Linked DNA regions of Homo sapiens. The protein of the gene in region 1 purifies or fractionates together with the protein of each later gene. This does not show direct contact. Each region holds a gene or a part of one and is shown in the gene's direction. Other genes may lie near its edges.

Region 1 (6,967 bases):
TCTTGTTGCTTAGTTCTAGCTGTTCTTTATACATGATGGATATCAGCCTCTTTTCAGATATATGATTTGCAAATATTTTTCCGAATCCATGGGTTATCTTTTCACTCAGTTCACAGTGTTTTTTGATGCACAAAAGTGTCTGTCATTTAGATGTAATCCAAGGAATCTAATTTTCTTTCGTTGCCTATGCTTTTGGTGTCATATCCCAGAAAGCATTGCCCAATCTGATGTCATGAAAGTGTGGCCAATGTTTTCTTTGAGGCATATTATACTTTTAGCACTTGGGGTTAGGTCTTTGATCCAGTTTGTGTTAATTTTTGCACCTGGTGTGACATAGGGTCCACCTTCATTCTTCTGCATGTGGAAATCAAGTTTCTCCAACACCATTTCTTGAAAAGGCTGCTTTTCCACCAATGAGCTTTCTTAGCACTCATGTTAAAAATCATTTGAACACATAGGTGAGAAGTTATTTCTGGGCTCAAAAACAAACAAACCACAACAAACAACAGATAAGGATACAGCATGGGCCGGGCGTGGTCGCTCACGCCTGTAATCCCAGCACTTTGGGAGGCCAAGGCGGGCGGATCACCTGAAGTCAGGAGATCAAGACCAGCCTGACCGACAGGGAGAAACCCCCGTCTCTACTAAAAATACAACATTAGCTGGGCATGCTGGCGCATGCCTGTAATCCCAGCTACTCAGGAGGTGGAGGCAGGAGAATCACTTGAACCCAGGAGGCAGAGGTTGTGGTGAGCCAAGATTGCACTGTTACACTCCAGTCTGGGCAAGAAGAGCAAAACTCCATCTCAAAACAAAAAACAAAAAACCAGCATGATTTCAAGAGCAGAAGACAAGAGCTTAAAAACCAGCATAATGAGAAAGTTAGGAAGCTTCTTACCAAAGCATCTGGAAATATGCAAGAAATTCTTGTGAACTAAAATTTTCATACTGTACTATCAAACACTAGAACTCACTTACTCCATCTTTCTGTATTTTGGGACCCAATTATCCACTTCTCCTCATTCCCCATCCACCCCTTTTCTTCCTAGCGTCTGCTAACCCCCTTTATACTCTCCACCTTCCTGAGATTCCTTTTGTTTGTAGGTGTGTGATGGAGTCTCTTTCCATTGCCCAGATTGGAGCATACAGGCACAGTCCAGGCTCACTGCAACCTCCACCTCCCGAGTTCAAGCGCTTCTTGGGCCTCAGCCTTCCGAGTAGCTGAGACTACAGGCACGCATCACCACGCCTGGCTAATTGTTTGTGTTTTTAGTAGAGACGGGGTTTCACCATGTTAGCCAGGCAGCTCTCAAACTCCTGGCCTCAAGTAATCCGTGCAACTCGGCCTCCCAAAGTGCTGGGATTACAGGCCTGAGCCACCTGGCCAAGATTTTCTTTTTTGTTCCTACGTATAAGTGAGGACATGTAATATTTGTCATTCTGTGCCTGGCTTATTTCACTTAACATACAGACCTGCAATCTCATCCATTTTTTCTGCAGCGGAGAGGATTTTATTCCTTTTTAGGCTGAATAATACTTCATTGTGTGTGTATACCGCAGTTTCTTAATTGAAACAAATTTCTAAAAAGCAAATATTTAAAAAATGTTTCGGAATGTGAAACTTTAGGGATATTGTGCCCATTTTATTCTTTTCTATTTCCCATTTTATGTATATGCAAGTGTATAATAAAGCAGCAATCAATGTGTGTATAAATCTGTAACTTCAACAAATGTAAAATGAAAATGCTAAGTGGTGGCTGGGCGCGATCGCTCACGCCTGTAATCTCAGCACTTTGGGAGGCTGAATCAGGCGGATCACCTGAGGTCGGGAGTTCAAGACCAGCCTGACCAATATGGAGAAACACTGTCTCTACTAAAAATACAAAAAAAAAAAAAAAAAAAAAAAATTGCCGGGCATGGTAGCGCATGCCTGTAATCCCAGCTACTTGGAAGGCTGAAACAGGAGAATCGCTTGAATACGGGAGGCAGAGGCTGCAGTGAGCCGAGATCATGCCATTACACTCCAGCCTGGGCAGCAAGAGTGAAACTCTGTTAAAAAAAAAAAAAAAAAAAAAAGAAAAGAAAAAAAGAGAAAATATTACTTCCATTATCGCAGGGGGTGCTCACCCCTGATGATATTGTTTTCTAATATCCAGGGAAGGAGAGTATGATATTACTCCCAATATCGCAGGGGGTGTACACTTTTTTGTGATATTGTGTCTAATATCCGGGGAAACAGAGGATGATATTACTCCCAATATCGCAGAGGGTGGACACCCCCCTGGGATATTGTTCCTAGTATCCCAACGGGGAGAGGATGATATTACTCCCCATATCGAAGGAAATGTACACCACCCCTGTGATATTGTTCCTGATATCCAGAGAGGAAAAGAATGATATTACTCCCAACAGCGAAGGAAATGTATACCCGCGCTGTGATATTTTTCCCAGTATCCGGGGGGGAGAGGATCATATTACTTCCAATATCGCAGGGTGTGTACACCCCCTCTGTTATCTTGTTGCTAACATCCAGGTTTGGGGAGGAAAACATTACTCCCAATATCACAGGGGGAGTACACCCCTCCGTGACCTTGTTAGTAATTTCCTGGGTGGAGAGGATGACATTACTCTCAATATCGCAGGGGTGTACACCCCACTGTGATATTTTTCTAAATATTCAGGGCGGGAGACGATAATATTACTCCCAATATCGCAGAAGGTGTACATTCCCTGACCATCAAACATAAGAAGTCCATCAACCTGTTTAGTTTTCTTTAGATCTGTATTTGAATTTGTGTTGTCCGTTTGTTTATTTATTATTTTTGAGACACAGTCTCACTCTGTCGCCAAGGCTGGAGGGTAGTGGCGCGATCTAGGCTCACTGCAACCTCCGCCTCCCGGGTTCAAGCAATTCTCCCACCTCAGGCTCCCTAGTAGCTGGAATTACTGGCACGCGCCACTACGTTCGGCTAATTTTTGTATTTTTAGTAGAGAAGGGGTTTCACCATGTTGGCCAGGCTGCTTTCGAACTCCTGACCTCAGGTGATCCGCCCTCCTCGGCCTCCCTAAGTGTTGGGATTACACGCGTGAGCCACCGCTCCTGGCCTGTCCATTTATTTTTGTTTTCTTTTTGTCACACTAAAATATAAGCTCCATGAGAGCAGTGACTCTGGATCTGTGGGGCCCGGAATAAACAGCGACTGACGCCGACTGCCTTCAGCAAGAGTCCGCTGGAGGATGGCTGGATATTTCTGGGAGGGTCGCTCTGGCAGGGGCCGCTGGAGCTACCCCAGCAACGCCATCCAAATCAACCTGAACGAAGAAGTGCGGACACTCGCCCTGGCCCCTCCGTCCTGAAAAGCTGACCCGCGCAAACAGCAGCGAACAGCAAGACTCAGTTCTGGGTCGCTGCCGCCGAACTTTCCCAGGCCGGAAACAGCGTGGAAACGTTGCCGGAAGTGGAGACTGAAAGCGGCGGAAGGGACGCTGGAATGTGGAGCGGTTGTGGGGCGGCAGCTGCGGAACTGCGCGATTGTGGTTCCCGCCGTATTTCCCGTTCCCCATCTAGTAACTCCCATCTCAGCCCACGTATCTCCCTGAGTGGAAATCTCGGGCCCCAGACCAGTCGATTGGGAGGTCCGCCCTCCCCTTCAGCGACTTGGTCTGTGTTTTGGCAGTTGCCGCGACAACAGTCACTTCCGGGAAGGGGCTCTGCGAATCTCCTTCCGTCGGTCCGCTCAGAATCAGCTGTCCTCTCAGACTGTGTGGGTGGTTTCCCCGGCCGCAGCTCCGTACGGGCTTGGATTGCTGGGCCTCGGTGCACCCCAGCCTCCCCCACTCGGGTTCTGAGCTTGAGCTGGCGGCTCTTTAACTCTGCTTCACTGTTGCTCTTGGCAACATCCACTTCCGGGAGCGAGTGCCGTTTCCCCCGCTCACCGCGGGCTAGGGAGCGTGGGATTCCGGACTGTGAGCGGCTGTTAGTGCGTCGCAGCTGCTGGCGATCCGGCGACCCTCGGCCGGCAGGACCCGCGGGCCACGCAGCCGGGGCCTTCTCAACGCCTCAGTACCTCGGCGGGACCGCCATGGTTCTGCTGCACGTGAAGCGGGGCGACGAGAGCCAGTTCCTGCTGCAGGCGCCTGGGAGTACCGAGCTGGAGGAGCTCACGGTGCAGGTGGCCCGGGTCTATAATGGGCGGCTCAAGGTGCAGCGCCTCTGCTCAGGTGCGGCTCGCGGGTGGGCCCATCCCGGACAGATCGAGAGACCGGCGTGGGATGGAGAAAGAGGGGCAGGGTGGGCCGAGGGGTCAGGTTTGTGAAGATTATTGAAGAGATTTGCAGCAGCCGGGGTTGAAACGGGACACTAGGGTTAACCGGAGATGAATAAGGAACCGGAGAAGATCCGGCCTGTCTGACACCCCGGGCTGGGAGGTGGGCCCAGGTGCCTCTCGGAGCCAGGATTTGGGGTGCTGCGAATAAGTGGAAATGGGCTGGGGAGGGAGGAGGGAGCCGAAAGGCCGGGCTGAACAGCAGACTTAGTGCAATTAATCACGTGTGAGGGGTGAGATGAGAACTAGGTGGGCTTTTAAAAGCTGAATTTACTATTTTTAGTCGCCCAATGTAAAGCAGCGAGCCACCTGGCTTTGGGACGGCCCCTTACAGTTGAGGAAGCCTTGGTGATCTTTCCCCGCCCTGGAAACGGCCTGTTGCGTTGCGGCGCCGTCTCCCTACCCCGCGCAGGTTCCAGGGCACCCGCTTTGCCGCAGAACTTTCCGGCGGTGGAAGGGCCCCCATCTGTGCTGTCCATTGGGCAGCTGCCGGCCACTTGTGGCCGTAGAGCATTTGGAATGTGGCTAGTGCGGCCAGGCAACCGAATTTTACATTTGCATTTTAATTAATTAAATATATATAAATATAAATAAATACCATATATATAGTATATATGAATATAAATAAATTATATATATGTATATATAAATATAAATAAATTATATATATATATATATATATGGTATGTGTGTGTGTGAGAGACAGGGTCTTACTGTTGCCCAGGCTGGAGTGCAGTGGCGCGATCTCTGCTCACTGCAACCTTCGCCTCCCGGGTTCAAGCTATTCTCCTGCCTCAGCCTCCCAAGTATCTGAGATTACAGGCGCCCACCACCACGCCCAGCTAATATTTGTATCTTTAGTGGACACGGGGTTTCATCATGTTGGCCAGGCTGGTCTCGAACGCCTGACCTCAGGTGATCCGCCTGCCTCCGCCTCCCAAAGTGCTAGGATTACAAGTGTGATCCATCGCGTCTGGGTCATTTTAATTTAAATAAATTTAAATCGCCAAGTGGAGCGAGTAGCTGCCGCATTAGACAGCATAGTTTTTGAACTTGACGGGATGATACTTCCTGATGTGGTCTAGGATATTACTGTTTATATAACTATCGTGTATATATAGAATATACAAACGTAACTATTTGCAATAAATAGTATATTCATTTATGTGATTTATTAAATTGCATGAATATGTGATTTATTATGAAATGTATTGATTACATTATATGAATATGTGAGTTTTGCACCGTGGAGAAATTCCTGAGGGTCATGGTTCTTTTCATGAAACTTATGTGTAGTTTCTTAATTGAGGTTCCAACACAAACTCAATATTAAATGTTATTTTTAAGTTAAAGCATTTGAGGAGAAAAGGAATTCATCTTCTTTTCCTATAACGTTATAAATTGGAAATGTGCTGAATGCTAAGAGTCACATTAGTGAACTGAAAATTCATGTATTTATTCTGCACCAGTGCTCAGCCTTCAGAAGACAAGGATGGGGCCGGGCGTGGTGGCTCACACGGGTAATCCTGACACTTTGAGAGGCTGAGGCGGGCGGATCACTTGAGCCTAGGAGTTCTAGACTAGCCTGGGCAACATGGTGAAACCCAGTCTCTACTAAAAATACAAAACGTGGTGACACATGCCTGTTGTCCCAGCTACTCGGGAGGCTGAGGCGTGAGAATCGCTTGAACCCGGGAGGCAATGCTGCAGTGAGCTGAGATCGCTGCAGTGAGCTGAGATCGCGCCACTGCACTCCTGCCTGGGTGACAGAGGGAGACCCTGTCTCAAAGAAAAAAAAGACAAGGATGAATAAGACCAGTACCATGCCCCCGTGTCAAAGGCCCAGGCCAGGTCTGGCACATAGCAAGTGGCATATAAATGTTTGTTCCATAAAATAGTGAGCCAGATGGGCAAGACCCCTGACTCTTTGGAGCTTACATTCCAATGGGGTATGAGGTGTTATGATTGTGATACTGTCTTTCACTTATTTTTAAGAAATGGAAGAATTAGCCGAACATGGCATATTTCTCCCTCCTAATATGCAAGGACTGACCGATGATCAGATTGAAGAATTGAAATTGAAGGATGAATGGGGTGAAAAATGCGTACCCAGCGGAGGTGCAGTGTTTAAAAAGGATGATATTGGACGAAGGAATGGGCAAGGTAAGTGAGGATTTCTCTTCTATGTGCATGCTTGATACAGGCATAAGTATGAAAACAGTTCCTTTTTTTTTTTTTGAGACGGATTCTTGCTCTAGCCCAGGCTGGAGTGCAGTGGCACAATCTCAGCTCACTGCCACCTCTGTCTTCCAGGTTCAAGCGATTCTCCTGCCTCCGCCTCTTGAGTAGCTGGGACTACAGGCATGTGCCACCACACCTGACTAATTTTTGTATTTTTAGTAGAGACGGGGTTTTGCCATGTTGGCCAGGCTGGTCTCGAACTCGTGACCTCAGATGATCTGCCGGTCTCGGCCTCCCAAAGTGCTGGGATTACAGGTGTGAGAAAGCAGTTCTTTACGTTTAAAAATTGACCTCGTCATTTCTCTACAGACTTACAAAATACTGTACTCTGTAGCTCCTTTGGTAAAACTCTAATCTAGGATGAATTAGGTAGATAAAGGAAGCTTTTGTCTTGCTCTTTA
Region 2 (7,457 bases), on another chromosome or scaffold:
TTCCAAATCAAGACAGATGTTTTTTCATATATTATAATCTGAAACACTTCCCAGTCTAAAGTTTCTCAACAGCAGTTAAACAAGCTCAACTTTGTCAGAAGGCTGGAATGTAGTTCTGCAGAATCAAATGAATTGGACTCATTTAGTAAAACGTAAGTGATTTCATACAGTCATCTCATCTACTTTGGGGCTTCAGTTTCCTCTGAATGGACCAATGGTTATTGATCCTTTCCAGTGTGTACATACTTCTCCTTGATCATAGAGAACGCAGAAGTAAAAAGACTTGAGTAACTTTGCTTTAACTATCTTTTGCCATTGTATCATTAGCCCCGGGGGTGAGGCTGGGCTAGAGATAGACTTGAGCATCATCCCCATAAAATAGAAGGTGGAGTGCAGGATTAGTTATACACATGAAAACTACTGATGCTGATGAAATATATTTGATGATAAGTTTATAATTACCTTTATGATTTAATGTTTAAGATAGTTATATATATATATATATCATTTTTGATAAATTAATTACCTATTTGTTTTACCTTAACAGTTTCAGGTAGCTAAGCTTTTTATAAACCAGGCCTATAGCCTCCTCTGGCATTCATATTTTCTTTTCAAAGCCTACTATTTGACAAAAATTATAACACATTATCTGTGAATAACATATTTTAAAATCATATGCCTGGGTACTATATTAAAATCAGCAAACACTTTCACATTTGATTCTAATAACAATTTTATGAAGTAGGTGTGATATTGTGAAATAGATATTTGGTCTTCTTCCCTGTTTTCTGGCATACAACGCTTAAAATATTTGAAATTTCTAAAGTGATAAATATATTTTCATATGCAAATGAATTGACTGAGGGTTGGCATCCCCTAGGTAGCTTCAGGAGGGGAGCTGGTCACTGGAAAGACCAAGGCAGGATTAGAGGGTTGGGACTTTAAGCCCCACCTTTCTTTAGGGGAGAGAAGTTGAAATTGATAGCCTATGACTAATGATTTAATCAATCATGCCTACATAATGAAGCTTATGTAAACTCCAAAATAACTAGATTCAAAGAGAGCTTCCTGATGGCTGAACATGTGGAGGTTCTTAGAGAATGGAGCATAACGAGAGGACATGGAGGCTCTGTGCCTTGCCCTATGCATCTGTTCCATTTGGTGTTCATTTGAATCGTTTATAATATCCTTTATGATAAACCAGTAAATGTAAGTATGTATTTCCCTGAGTTCTGTGAGCGCTCTGGCAAATTAATTAAATCCAAGGAGGGGGGTCATATGAACTCTGATTGATAGCTGGTTGGTCAGGAGCACAGGTACAATGATCTGGGGCTTGCGACTGGTGTCTGAATGGGGACAGTCTTGTGGGACTGAAAGTCCTCAACCTGTGAGTTTTAATGCTATCTCCAAGTAGATAGTGTCAGGATTGAATTAGAGGACACACAGCTGGTGTCCACTGTAGAACTGATCACTTACTAGTTGGGTAGGGAAATAACCCTCACACATCTGGGGTCACAGAAGTGTTCTGTATTGTGAGAGTATAGAAGCAACTGTGTTTTTCCAACAACCTCAGTAGGTCAAATCAGGACTTTTTCGGATGACCTTCAAGACAACTCAGTCAAAATGTAAATCATTGTTTTTTTAAAAATTACCATTAAAGTGTGCAGCAGACATTTCTGTTCCTTGCTCTATCCCTTACTCCTATTATCAGTATGATGAGTTTAATTTTCTACTTTGTTCATGTATTTACTCATTTGAAATTTTAAAAATGAATTATTTTTGTAATCAAAAGCAATAAAGATCTTCTTAAGTCTGTTAGAACTGAATTAACTTGTAAAGGGTTACCAATTGTGTCCCCCAAATCTGTCATTGTAAATGAGGCTTTTTCAGTGGTAAGCATAAAATATCTCCATTACTGTGTGAAACAAAAGAACTGTTGGAAATTTAATTAAAGATTACCTGAAAAAATCTGGAGTTAAGAATAAGGAATCAACTCTTACTACTCCATTCACTAATGTTAGAAGGGTGGTATAATCATGAAGGATGCAGAATACAGAATGTCAATCCCTTGGATTTTCAAGTGTAAAATAGGGCAAGTGTTATTACTACCATAAAGACATATTTATATTTATTTCTTAATCAAAAATGTGTTAGTATGAACATCATCCTCATAAAGGAGAAAAACCAATTAGAGAAACCGATCATGTGATGCACAAGTGAGTTGTCAGAGAAGTAGAAATTTTGGTGACAATGATTAATAAGCCTTTCCGAAATGAACAATTGTGGTCAACACCTGCTTCATAGTTAGATGTGATTTGCGTGCCAGATAGTGCTTAATCTCATTTCTAATATACTATGCCTAAGCTTCAAGCTCTCTGTCCCTCATACCCAGAGATGGAGAACAGTGATGAATGAGGCTCAGATATTGGGTGAAGGTATCAGCTTTACACACAAATTGTAGCCAAACTGTATCAAGGAAGTTGGCTCAAAACACTATATATCCAAGATATGTGAAGGGCAGGTATGGTCACCAGTTTATGGATAAAGGAAATTTTTTTCTTCATCTCAATCTCTTGCTTTATTTAATAGGTCACTTCTTGGCTGCAGCAGATATTTACAGTATTCTGTGTGCTCACATGAATGTGTGTTTGTGTGTGTGTGTGTGTGTGTTTAATTTATATTTTTATCATGAATCAAAGCTGACTGGATGATCCCACTTAACCCCTATTCTCTGTTCACACATAAAGTTTATTCAAAGTGATACTGCTAATGATATTAGTAAGTTATTGATCTGATATTTTACCAGGCTGTTTAACATGTCACATATTTCTAATAAAATTTTAATTGATTCTTGAGGAATATCATTAAAATGAGCAAGGATCAGATTTGACAGGTCTGCACTCAACACACAAATATAAATGTAAATATGTAATAACTAACTTAAAAGTTTTTAAGGGTAATTTTCAGCTTTTTGCACACTCCTCAGCCATAAAAGAAAATCTAAAGATTCCTTTAAAGTCTCTCATGGCTAGCATTTCTGAAGTGTTTTTTGATGTTGACATCTAGAAGATTTATTAGATGGCAGGATACAGAACAATATGAGAATTTATGTAGCTGTAAAATGGAACAATTTGAGAATTTATCTAGCTGTATAATATACCAGATAAGAGCTTAGACTCTAATATGAATCTCCATATGTTAAAATGCCAGGCCCACCATTTACAGGTTATTTAACTTTGGAAAGTTTTTCAAACTCTCCATGTCTGTGCCTCAGTTTCTCACCTATAAACCTCATAAAGTCACTTCAATGATGAAATAATTATAATCCACATAAAACCCCTTGAACAGTACCTGACACAGAGTGAATAGTAAATCATAACACTTTGTTCACTGGGCAGAAAAAAAATGCTGCTAGCCCCCTGGATAACATTCTCTTCCTCTCTAGAATGGTGGTAGTATACTAGGTCCTATTGCACATATACACATTAGGAAGATACTTTTTACTAAAGTCACTTTGAATGAGAGTATTCTGGATTTAAGTGGTGCTGAAGTATATTGCATAGCAAAATCTGAGGGTAAGTAGGCATTATGATCAAAATTTCAAGTAGTAATAAATGTAAGTTGTAAACACATTTAAATCTCATTATGTCAGTTAAGGCATCTTTCAGGACTTGCAGCTCCCTTAATAACTAGATATTAAAAAGTCAATCAAACTCAGTGTTTCCTAGGGCACATATAAGGGCAGGAGAAATTCCCTTGCATAAATGAAAAACAACAAATGTGAATGCCAAAATGCAAAGCATTTGTGGAATCTTTAGGTTTTTCTTGACCATCCACCTTTCTATACAGCAATTCAATCATTTAGACAAATTTCCTTCAACAAATGATAGAAAAGAATACGAGGCTTTGAGTAAGATAAACAAGTCCATATATTAGACAGAGTCACTAGAAAGAGACCCCTTAGTAATCTTCCTTAACTGCAATTATCAGATGGGTTTTGCAAAGAATGCAAATTTATCTGTGAAAATTGGTGTATTCCTAGACTAATACTCATTATTTTAGTCTGGGAATCTGGAATAATAATACTTATGCTGGTAACTACCTTTGCTAAACTTAAGAACCATAAAAAGACACTTTCATATAACATGTGTGACTTTTTTTCTCTAGCAAGTTTTTTGCATTTTCATGTCTTTGTGAATTTTTAAGCCCATGTGCTTGGAAACTCTGGCTTCATCCCTGACATTCTACATTTCTGCTCTTCACAGACTCCTTTACCTGCTGGGCAGCCTTGTAGCTATCTCCGTGGCAAGGCAGGGCCTCTCCTGGCATGTAAACCTGCTAAGTGAATCCGCCCCTAAGGGCGTGTCAGTACCATTTCCTGGAGCAATGTCACAGGGTGGCTCCATTTTCCATTTGAGCTCAAATATTTTGCTGCTTCCTCTGTAGCTGCCAGACCTGCTCTTGCTGCTGCTCAGGTAGCTTTCTTCTCTTCCCGGCACCACTATTGGCAGAGGTTTTGATAAGCGGTTTCCACACGTGTGTCGTGTGTCTGTCTGCCTGCCTGACTGCCTGCTTGCCTGTCTTTTTTTTCCATTATATTTCTCTGTTTGTTCCTTAGGTAGAACATCTGGGAGGTCCCTTGCTGACCACTGGAAGAAGATGAGCTCGAGCTATTGGAGTGAGACGAGCAGCAGCAGCTGTGGAACCCAGCAGCTCCCAGAGGTGCTGCAGTGCCAGCCCCAGCATTACCACTGCTACCATCAGTCAAGCCAAGCCCAGCAGCCTCCAGAAAAAAATGTAGTGTATGAGCGAGTGAGGACCTACAGTGGGCCCATGAACAAGGTGGTGCAGGCCTTGGACCCCTTCAACTCACGGGAAGTGCTCTCCCCTCTCAAAACCACCTCCTCCTACCAAAATTTGGTTTGGAGCGACCATTCTCAGGTACAACAAAGAAAGCTATGCCAGACTAGTGGAGAAAGGCAATCTTCAACCTGATTTCTCTTCCTTTCTGCTTCTTTGCCTCTATTCCACAGGATATCTTTTGGTGGATTGCAGTTATATATGCCTTGGATAGTCACCCAAATTCATCTCTTGGCTGTTATTTCACTTACTAGTGTCTGTGGTTGTTTGTTTCCGGGTTTCACTGATTTTCATAATCTAACCATAGTATAGGAAGGCTCATTTTCTGTTTGATCTGACTGAAAGATCTGATCCAAGGAATCCCTTTGCCCCTACTGCAAAGCAGTTCTCAACTTGAGTACAGTAGATTTTTATTAGAACAAGTTCCTACTGATTAATTTCATATCAGAAGCAAACAGGTTTTTTTTGGTATCAAATATGGTGATACAGGTACTGTGGCATGTCTGAGTGATAAGCAATTATTTGTGCTCAGCAAATAGTATAGCTGCTCCAGGATAAGTGAGAGGTGCAGATGTCTGAATTGTCATATGTGTTTCATCTTCCAAGAATGACACACTTTTTATCGTACAGCCTAGGTGAATAATTTATGGAATACTTGTAGAAAGAGTACTGGAAGAGTTGATATAGGATTGAGGAAGGCAAGATGTAAGCAATTGTTACATGAAAGCTACAAAAGATGGAACTCTAAGACATCCCATAAAATGAAATACGTTTGTTTCTTAAGAGTTATTCTTAGCACCAATACCTGTGTTAATAACCTTCCCAATAAATACAAGGTAACCCTGCAAGACTGTATAAAATTAACAGCTTTATGTGTATTTTATCCTCTGACTCCTTTTACATTAAATTTGCATGTTTTAAGCTTTCTGGAAAATTCTGTCCAAACTGAAATTATGTTTTTAAGATACAAAAATCTCAAAAAGCAGTCATTGGGATATGATGCTATGTTACATTATTATTACCAATCAGGAGTAATACATATTATTTTTCCAAAACCCACAAATTTGAGTAGAATATAAAGTAACATTTCTCAACTGGTTGAGAAAAACTCCACTTATACTGAGGTCAAGGAGAAGAAAAATATAAAGGTCATAAATACCAGTTTGCATTAGTGATAAAAATAATGCAAATGTGCACTCCAATATTCATATTGAGATGCTAATGCAGAACAAAATGAATGCCACCTTTGTTTTATTGTAGCTCAAAAACAATGATGTGCAGATTAAAAACAATTACTATTATCTTAGGAATCCTAAAATCATCCTATCTGCCATAGCTATTTAAACATATTTAGACCCCTTTTTTGTCAACTTGCTAGTAAAAGAAACATAAATAGATATTTAAAAGCTGAAATTTGACAAATTATAAATATTGGCTACCGGACAATTTTTAGGAGTATGTTTTATTATTTACTCCTTGGTTCAGCTTCCCCTTTCAATAACTCAGGATCAAGTTGGTTGAGCTTTTTACAAGATTTTCCTTATTTTACCTGGCATTTGCCAAAGTGATCCTTAAAAATGGACTATCTCCTTCCTAAAATGTAGCTCGCCACACAGGAGTTTATAAACAACTTAGGGCTAGAAAGTGCAGCTGCAGAAACTGGGATAAAAGATTAGAATGGAGGGCTCTGTGAAGTCTGAAGTTATTTATTATTGAAAAGGAAGAAAAGTAAGTGCTGTTAGAAAATGAGAAAAGTGAAAGTTAAGCTATGTGGTAAAGGGAAAAAAAGAAGTATTAATTCCTTAGTGAAACAAGAAGAAAGAATATTTGACTATAAATTTTCAAACTGAGTTGGATATCAAAGGGCATTCACAAATCCACTAAAAGAGAACTTGGCAAGACAGCTTTTAGATAGCTGTCACAAAGAATATGATGAGGAAACTCTTCTATTTTATTTTCCTTTCTCCCTGTTTATTGATGGAATGGCATTGTGGCATCATGTAAAGTAGGACCTAGATTTGATCTGAAATTACCTTTATGCTAACGAAATGAGTATAATGTGATGGTATGTATAATGTACCATGACAGGCATGAGCAAGCAGTACATATTACTCAAAAACCCTTAATTCACTTTATGTTTCAATAAAGTCTATCCTTAATAAACCACGTTTCAGATGAGTTGATGTGTAGCAATTAGCCTAATACCAGAGTTTGTGACCATGGCAGCAAGAAAAATTGATTTTACAATCAATGGTTGATCATCATGAATTCAGTTAAACTTTTACTTTGTCTTTGTTTTTGTTTTGTTTTGTTTTGTTTTTTGCCTTTTGGTTTTTGGAAGACATTCAGGGAATTAATGAGATTTTAAAATAAATATTACCAGTAGTAAAATATGTTGCCTTTGAGAAACCAAAATTGATGCTACTCTGCTTTGCTTCCTGAATCATAATTTTAGGTCATGTAGTAGGCATTTTCGATTTAATCAAATGTTTTCTGTAGCACTTTATTTTCCATTTCTAGCTTTTGAGTACATGCTTTTATTCTCTTAACCTCTTGTGCACTAAAATGGTGTTTATGGATATAAACATATTTTAAAT
Region 3 (7,390 bases), on another chromosome or scaffold:
TAGTGGGATTGTTACCCCATTACACCGGGTTTTACATACACAAGCATTTCCCTAGGGATGAAAAACTAAGTTCTAGAGTGACAGTGGCTTGCTCAAGGTCATATGTCTAATTCAGTAGTTCCAGGGACAATTGGATAATGTCTGGAGACATTTTTGGTTGTCACAACCAGGAGTTGCTACTGGCCTGTGGCCAGGGATATTGCTGAACATCCCACATTTCACAGGACAGCTCCCATAACAAAGAATTATCCAGACCAAGATGTAAATAACACTGAGGTTGTGAAGCCCTGGTCTAAATAATTAGCTAATCAAATTTCTTAACCAAAGCAGACTTACTTGTATCTTATGTATTAAAAAAATGATAAACATCTGGGACATCAAAATATTTTTGTTAAACAAATGTTGATTGTAATGGTGCTGATTCTACCAGAAAAATGTGTATTGATAGTTCACCATTGAAACAATAACTGAGTTGTTTTTCCTGTAAAGATGACCCTCTGCATGTAATCATTTACACATTCTCTCCCTTCCCTCCCCAATGGTAAGCATTTATAGAACAACTGGCTAGGGTGGCAGGTGCAAGGGTGACTCCCTATGACTGAGGAGAACCCCAAAATTTTGCTCTGAGTGGGCTCACCATGATCTCATTGGCATTATCTTTTGCCCTGTCCAATTCAAGTTGCTCAAACAATATACTGTGTCATGGACAGTTCCTGGGCTGTCCTTGAACCTGAAGGATTGCCTCAGCCATCTCAACCTTCTTCTCATAGCATCACCTCAAACCCAGGGCTGAAGTCTAGAAGCCGCATTGTCACTTCCTCATCTGTTAACCATCTCTGTGGGCTGGAGGCAATCCCACCTCAGACTGGGATCATTCAGGAGCAGACGGAATGCCTTCTAAAAGTTGAATCAGTTAGGGTCACTTATATGCAAGGCATTATGCTATATACTGTGAAATGTGCAAAAGAAATGTAACGGGTGGTCCTCATCTTGTGGGAATTGACAGTCTAAGAGAAAAATAATACATACACATGAAGAAATAACCAGTGATTCAAGGCAGAAAATTATACATTCTGAAGACAGTAAATGCTGTAGGAATTTAGAGGTGAGAAAGATGTCTCTGAATTGGGAGGGTCAGAGAAAGTTTTCCTGAAGGGTCACCCTGGCTTGGAAATGGATCTCATGGTGAAGTTAGAAGTTCAGTGGAGATAAAGAGGATTATGAAAGACATGCTTGAAAAATGGGGGGAAACCGGTCTGGCTGGGGTTGAGGCACTCAGTGGGAGAAAAATCAGAGATAAAGTTAGAAAGACAGGTTTGCCCGATTGTGACAGACCCTGATTACCAGGCTAAGGAAATGATACTTTGCTCTGTAGATAAATGGGGAGCTGGGAGGGCTTGTGAGACAAGGCCCCAGTGAACCCCCAAATCAGTTTCCTCTTTCCTCCATCCTGGCTTGTCTAAACGCATTGGTCTGGGAGCCAAGGATTCCAAATTTCTGTCAGTGCTGCCTCCTCCTGACCCACAGCTGTTCCAGGAAAGGTCATGGGAATTCAAGGACCTGAAGAAAGTCCCACATCTGACCTCAACTTGCTGTATGTTTCACTTTCTCAGTCTACAAAAATGAGCCCATTACCTTTATTTATCAAAGGACCAACAAAATTAGGATAACAGAACTTGGATCTGCTTTTGCTTGGAAGGGAACTCTCACGGGCTTTCCATTGGTATCCAGAGGCTGTGTGGAACTCCGGAAGGCAGAGAGGCTTGGCTCTGAAGGGTAGGCACCAATCCAGGCCCGGCCCTCCTCTCTCCCTTCCCCCTTCACTCCCTCCCAGCACAGGCGAGAGGAAGCAGCAGCTGTTGTCCTGTGGGGAAGACAGGCAGAGGTCCACCTGGCACTGTTGGGATTTTCACAACACCCGCCCCAACTTAAACACACACACAACAGCCTAAGGAGAAGCTGGGCCAACAGAAGTGACTTCGACGATAGAATGAGAAGGAAGCAGGGGTAGAGATTGCTGGTGTAAGGGACTTTTTCTTCCCTTCTGTCTTCTCTCCCACTGTTTTGTCTTCTGCTCTTGCTCTCTCTCTCAGAGTCTTTCTTCTCCTCCTGTGAAACTCCTGAACCAGTCCCTGGCCTGATGCCTGAATCTTTTTGTTCTTCCTAAACTTGTCCCCCTTCCTCCATCTTTTTCTGTTGCCCCATGAATGCAGTGAAGCCAAAATAGCAAAATCAGCCTACCAAGTACAAGGTGAAGCAGATCTTGGAAGCTGGATAATTTGGGCACACAAACAAAATCACCTCCCTTATCCAAATAATTGAGGCAAAACAAAGATTTCAGTTGAATTGCACGTATGGTAGGTACGACTCAATTTCGATTTTCATGTGCAAACTTAAAACCTTACTCTCTTTTCCCTTTGGACTGAAGCAGCAGGGCCATGTTTATTTCACTTTCACACAGTCCTAAGGCAGCCTTCTACGCAGCCCAGCATACTCGAGTTGAAGAGCAAACTAGGATAATTATAATATCAGGAAAACACAAGTGTAGAGGGAAATTTAAATCATGGCTTGAAAACATCCCACTCTAGGATAATGAGAAGTAGAAAGGAGACCAAGCTAGGCATTCAAATGAGCTTGCAGCCTTCCATCCAGCCTCCACTCCAAAGGCTAGACTGGCCTGTGCTGATACACATTTGATACACAGCCTGGTTTAAACCGTGGATTTTATCTCCTAACATTCATGTTTCTACGGCAGCAGGGGCATAATTCTCTATCCAGAACTTCTATCCAGAAGTTCAGCCTGCAAAGTTTGGGATACCTTAACAAAGAAGTGAACAGCTGCTCCCCCAACCAAGGCCTCGCTGAGGACAAACCAGAAGAGCCAGAGGCCTGTGTGAACTTGTTCTTGATTCTCTTTTGCCATCTAGTGGCATTTCTCATCTCCAGCACCACTTTTGCTTCTAAAGATCCTTCATCCTGACCCCCAACCCACAGCTGTGCTGTCCAGCTACTAAAATAATGTCCTCCTGGCCTCAAAACAAACTCCCCATCCTCCTGACTTAGAATCATAAATTCTGGACCAGAACACAAACTTTATGATCAGGATGGGTTGTGCGACTTCTCCACAGTTATAATCCACACAACAGCCAGGTAATCCTTTAAGCTGACACGTTCTTTATTCATCTACTTAGAACCCTTCCAGGGTTCCCTACTGTGCTTGGAGTAAAAGCCACAGGCCTTCAAATGGTCCGTAAGTCTTCCCAATGACCTGGTCTCTGGTCCCTCTCTGAACTCTCAGTTACCTGCTCCAGCCACACTGGACACACTGCTGTTCCTCCAACACCTCAGGCATCTGTCTGCTCTGGGGCTTTTGCAGTGCTAGTCTCTTCACTTGGAACATTCTTCCTCCGGATAATCACAAGTTCACTCTTATCTTCAAGTCTCTGCCCCAGAGTCAGCGATTTCAACGATGTTACGTAAAATTACTGACCACCAACCCCTATACTGTTCTACTTTTTTCCCTAGCCATTATCACTTTGAGCAAAGTATACGTATTTTTTTTTACTGTCTTTCTCCAATGGAATGTAAGCTCTACAAAGGCAGGGACTTTTGTCTTTGTTTTTTGTTGTTGTTTGTTTGTTTGTTTGTTTGTTTTTTGAGACAGGGTCTCACTCTGTGACCCAGGCTGGAGTGCAGTGGTGCAATCATGATTTTCACTGCAGATTTTATCTCTCAAGCTCAAGCAATCCTCCCTCCTCAGCCTCTGGAGTAGCTGGGACCACAGGCATGCACCACCATGCCTGGCTAATTTTTCAAATTTTTTATAGAGACAGGGTTTCGCCACATTGCCCAGGCTGGTCTTGAATTCGTGGCCTTAGGCAATCCTCCTGCCATGGCCTCCCAAAGTGCTAGGATTACAGGTGTGGGCCACCGTACCTGGCCATTTTTGCCTTTTTTGTTCAGTGATATATCCCAAGTATCTTGACACTTAGTAGATGCTCGATAAATGTTTGTTGACCACATGAATGAAGCATGCCCAAGATTCTGAGATTGCCTACTACTTACAGGTAAATTCTGAAAACAAAAATATTCCTCATCTCAGTTTTACAGGCCTTCTCACCCACAGAGGGTGATGCTTCTCTGCCTTGGTGTCTCGGTTCTCCTGAGTGTCATATTCCAAGCTCACAAGAGCTTGGAGTAGCACTGACCCAGATGCTCCACACAGCTGTAACCACCACAAGGAACAGGACATACAAGGTGAAGGAAGCACTAAGGCAGGATGTCGAGAGCAGCAACAGCATTTTAAACACAAACATTTGGGCAGTATTAAATTTTTGCAATTTTCAATAAAAAAGGGAGGGAACAAGTGAAATTGAGAGGTGTTGGCTGCCTTCTCCAGCTAAAGCCATGTGGCCTTGGTTGGTACCTGGAACTGGAGAGGCCTGTGAATCATTGTGGAATGGCTTCGCTATTGGGGATGGTGCCAGGCCTCGTGACAGTGATGATTCATTCACCCACTTCCCTCGTGTCTGTTCCATCTCCTCCGAAAGATAACCAGTATCTCCAGATGACAAGGAACCAGACAAAGCATCTTTCTAGGCTGTCCTATCTGTGCCTCAGGTCAGAGAAGAAGCAACCCTTAACACCACAGTGATTGACTCTTCCCAGGATCAAGGGCCAGAAGTGTATATGAGAGGATATGAATGACAACTCTTCCTGAAATTGATTTCAGTTGACACCTGGGTCAGGTGCTCTATTAAAGAGTCATTAAAATCATGTGGCCAGGGAACAAATACAGTCTTCGAATGTGACGATTCAAGCTTCCTCATTGCTGAACATGTTTAGGCAGGTACAGGCATCCTTAGGTGTCCACGTATTTGGGACATGTAAGTGGAGAGGCATGAACCTGATTCATTTCCTGATCCAGTGATGCTCCCAGCCCACCCCCAAACAGACACAGCGTAGCCCGGGCCAGCTCTTAAGGAGTTCAGGAGTGAGAAGAGGCCCTCAGAGATCTGACAGCCTAGGAGTGCGTGGACACCACCTCAGCCCACTGAGCAGGAGTCACAGCACGAAGACCAAGCGCAAAGGTGAGGCTGTGGCAGGATCTGGGGAGGAGTGAGGACAGAGAAGGAGGGATGGGTTCTGATCCTGAGAGTACACTCAGGTGAGCGATAAAATGGATAAAGGAGGGACTGGATTTAGGGGAGATGAGGACACGCATTGGGGAAAGGGGAGAGTGATGTTGGGGATGGAGGCAAAAAATGAAAAAGAATGGGAACACAGACGAGATGGGAATCGGGAGAGGATGAGACACAGACACAGGAACATGGAGACACAAAAGGGATGAGACTTAAGGGAAAGGGGAGAGGACAAAGAGTGACAGGCAACAGGGACAGAATGAAGGGAACAGAAATACAAGATGAGAGATGGGGCCACAGGGTTGTTGTTGGGGCTGCAGTGGATGTGGACACACAGAAGAAGAGGCAGAGATGAGACACAAAGTGAGGAAAGGAGACAACCGAGTAGGGAGATGGGTGACTAGCTCATATGAGCAGGTATAAGAGGACTAATTTCTCAACTGAACACCTCTGTCCCAGCGACCCCTGCCCTCCATCCTGACTGCTCCTCCTAAGAGAGATGGCACCGGCCAGAGCAGGATTCTGCCCCCTTCTGCTGCTTCTGCTGCTGGGGCTGTGGGTGGCAGAGATCCCAGTCAGTGCCAAGCCCAAGGGCATGACCTCATCACAGTGGTTTAAAATTCAGCACATGCAGCCCAGCCCTCAAGCATGCAACTCAGCCATGAAAAACATTAACAAGCACACAAAACGGTGCAAAGACCTCAACACCTTCCTGCACGAGCCTTTCTCCAGTGTGGCCGCCACCTGCCAGACCCCCAAAATAGCCTGCAAGAATGGCGATAAAAACTGCCACCAGAGCCACGGGGCCGTGTCCCTGACCATGTGTAAGCTCACCTCAGGGAAGCATCCGAACTGCAGGTACAAAGAGAAGCGACAGAACAAGTCTTACGTAGTGGCCTGTAAGCCTCCCCAGAAAAAGGACTCTCAGCAATTCCACCTGGTTCCTGTACACTTGGACAGAGTCCTTTAGGTTTCCAGACTGGCTTGCTCTTTGGCTGACCTTCAATTCCCTCTCCAGGACTCCGCACCACTCCCCTACACCCAGAGCATTCTCTTCCCCTCATCTCTTGGGGCTGTTCCTGGTTCAGCCTCTGCTGGGAGGCTGAAGCTGACACTCTGGTGAGCTGAGCTCTAGAGGGATGGCTTTTCATCTTTTTGTTGCTGTTTTCCCAGATGCTTATCCCCAAGAAACAGCAAGCTCAGGTCTGTGGGTTCCCTGGTCTATGCCATTGCACATGTCTCCCCTGCCCCCTGGCATTAGGGCAGCATGACAAGGAGAGGAAATAAATGGAAAGGGGGCATATGGGATTTGTGGACACAGCTGTTTCTGTTCCTGAACTAGAAGTCTTCCCCAGCTCTGACGTGGCAGTGAGGTGACCTGAAGGAAAGAAAAATATAAATAAATACCACTTCATATTTGTATAGAATCCTCTAATCCCTTGTGACATAGACTTGACAGGGATTGTATGCCTTCTTTATGGATGAGGAAATTAAGGTTTTAGAAAGCTTAATGAATTAAAGAGCTTGTCTAATTAGTTAGTAGCAGAACCTGGACTTGAACCTAGGTCTCCTTGCTCTAAATACAGTGTACCTTCTACTCTACCAGTTGCGCAAGAAAGAAGTCACTGTTACAGAGGCAAGCGGTGAACTAGGTAAGAGTTCACTCATGAAGAAACGAGTGCTCTGAAGAGCCAGTTACCCTGTGTTGGCTGCAATAAAGGTCATTACCTCTCTAGCCAAGAGATTGTTTATGAGGTGCTCTGGCATTTTATTCCTTCTCTCTCTTCCTCTCTAACTGCCCCTCCCGTTTCTCTAGACCACTGCTCTTCCAACCTAGGCCCTGGACCTGGCTCTGGCCAGATCCCCTTGGCCTGAAGACATAAGGTAAAGGGAGTGTCTGAGCTTCATCCCCCAGATCCAGGATCACATTTCCTTTGACCTTAAGGGACTTCCGTGGCCCTGAGCCTGCTTGTCACAAACAGGCTGGTGGGAGCTGCCAGAGCTTCCTTCCTCCTGATAATGATCTCCCCTGCCTCATTGCTACCCTGGCTCTCCACTCTGGCAGTCTGCCCAGGCCTGAGGGGTTGAGATGCGAAAATGCCATTTCCCTGTCCCCCTGGGCTACAGATACCATTTCTCTCGTTCTGGGGACTGGAGCTGGAGAAGGTATGGCTTGGTATTGGCCAGTCCTGATGGTCTCTCCAACATTGCTTGACCAGCACCATCCCCTTCTTTCTTCCTTTATCTCA

The links. The genes of interacting proteins can lie anywhere in the genome.
Region 2: the proteins of CFAP298 (region 1) and POF1B purify together in Homo sapiens (affinity purification with mass spectrometry; 3 studies listed by BioGRID and IntAct, with this or other methods). This does not show direct contact.
Region 3: the proteins of CFAP298 (region 1) and RNASE7 purify together in Homo sapiens (affinity purification with mass spectrometry; 3 studies listed by BioGRID and IntAct, with this or other methods). This does not show direct contact.

Annotation. Positions count from the first base shown.
Region 1 is NC_000021.9:32,609,359-32,616,325, reverse strand, and holds the start of CFAP298 (cilia- and flagella-associated protein 298), read left to right. Parts: upstream 1-3,948; 5' UTR 3,949-4,082; coding exon 4,083-4,221; intron 4,222-6,320; coding exon 6,321-6,488; intron 6,489-6,967. Other genes in the region: CFAP298-TCP10L (uncharacterized protein LOC110091775), read left to right, coding at 4,083-4,221, 6,321-6,488. UniProt on the Homo sapiens protein: Plays a role in motile cilium function, possibly by acting on outer dynein arm assembly. Seems to be important for initiation rather than maintenance of cilium motility.
Region 2 is NC_000023.11:85,376,657-85,384,113, reverse strand, and holds the start of POF1B (protein POF1B), read left to right. Parts: upstream 1-4,448; 5' UTR 4,449-4,475; intron 4,476-4,618; 5' UTR 4,619-4,659; coding exon 4,660-4,941; intron 4,942-7,457. UniProt on the Homo sapiens protein: Plays a key role in the organization of epithelial monolayers by regulating the actin cytoskeleton. May be involved in ovary development.
Region 3 is NC_000014.9:21,037,353-21,044,742, forward strand, and holds RNASE7 (ribonuclease 7 precursor), read left to right. Parts: upstream 1-5,009; 5' UTR 5,010-5,090; intron 5,091-5,600; 5' UTR 5,601-5,640; coding exon 5,641-6,111; 3' UTR 6,112-6,881; downstream 6,882-7,390. UniProt on the Homo sapiens protein: Exhibits a potent RNase activity.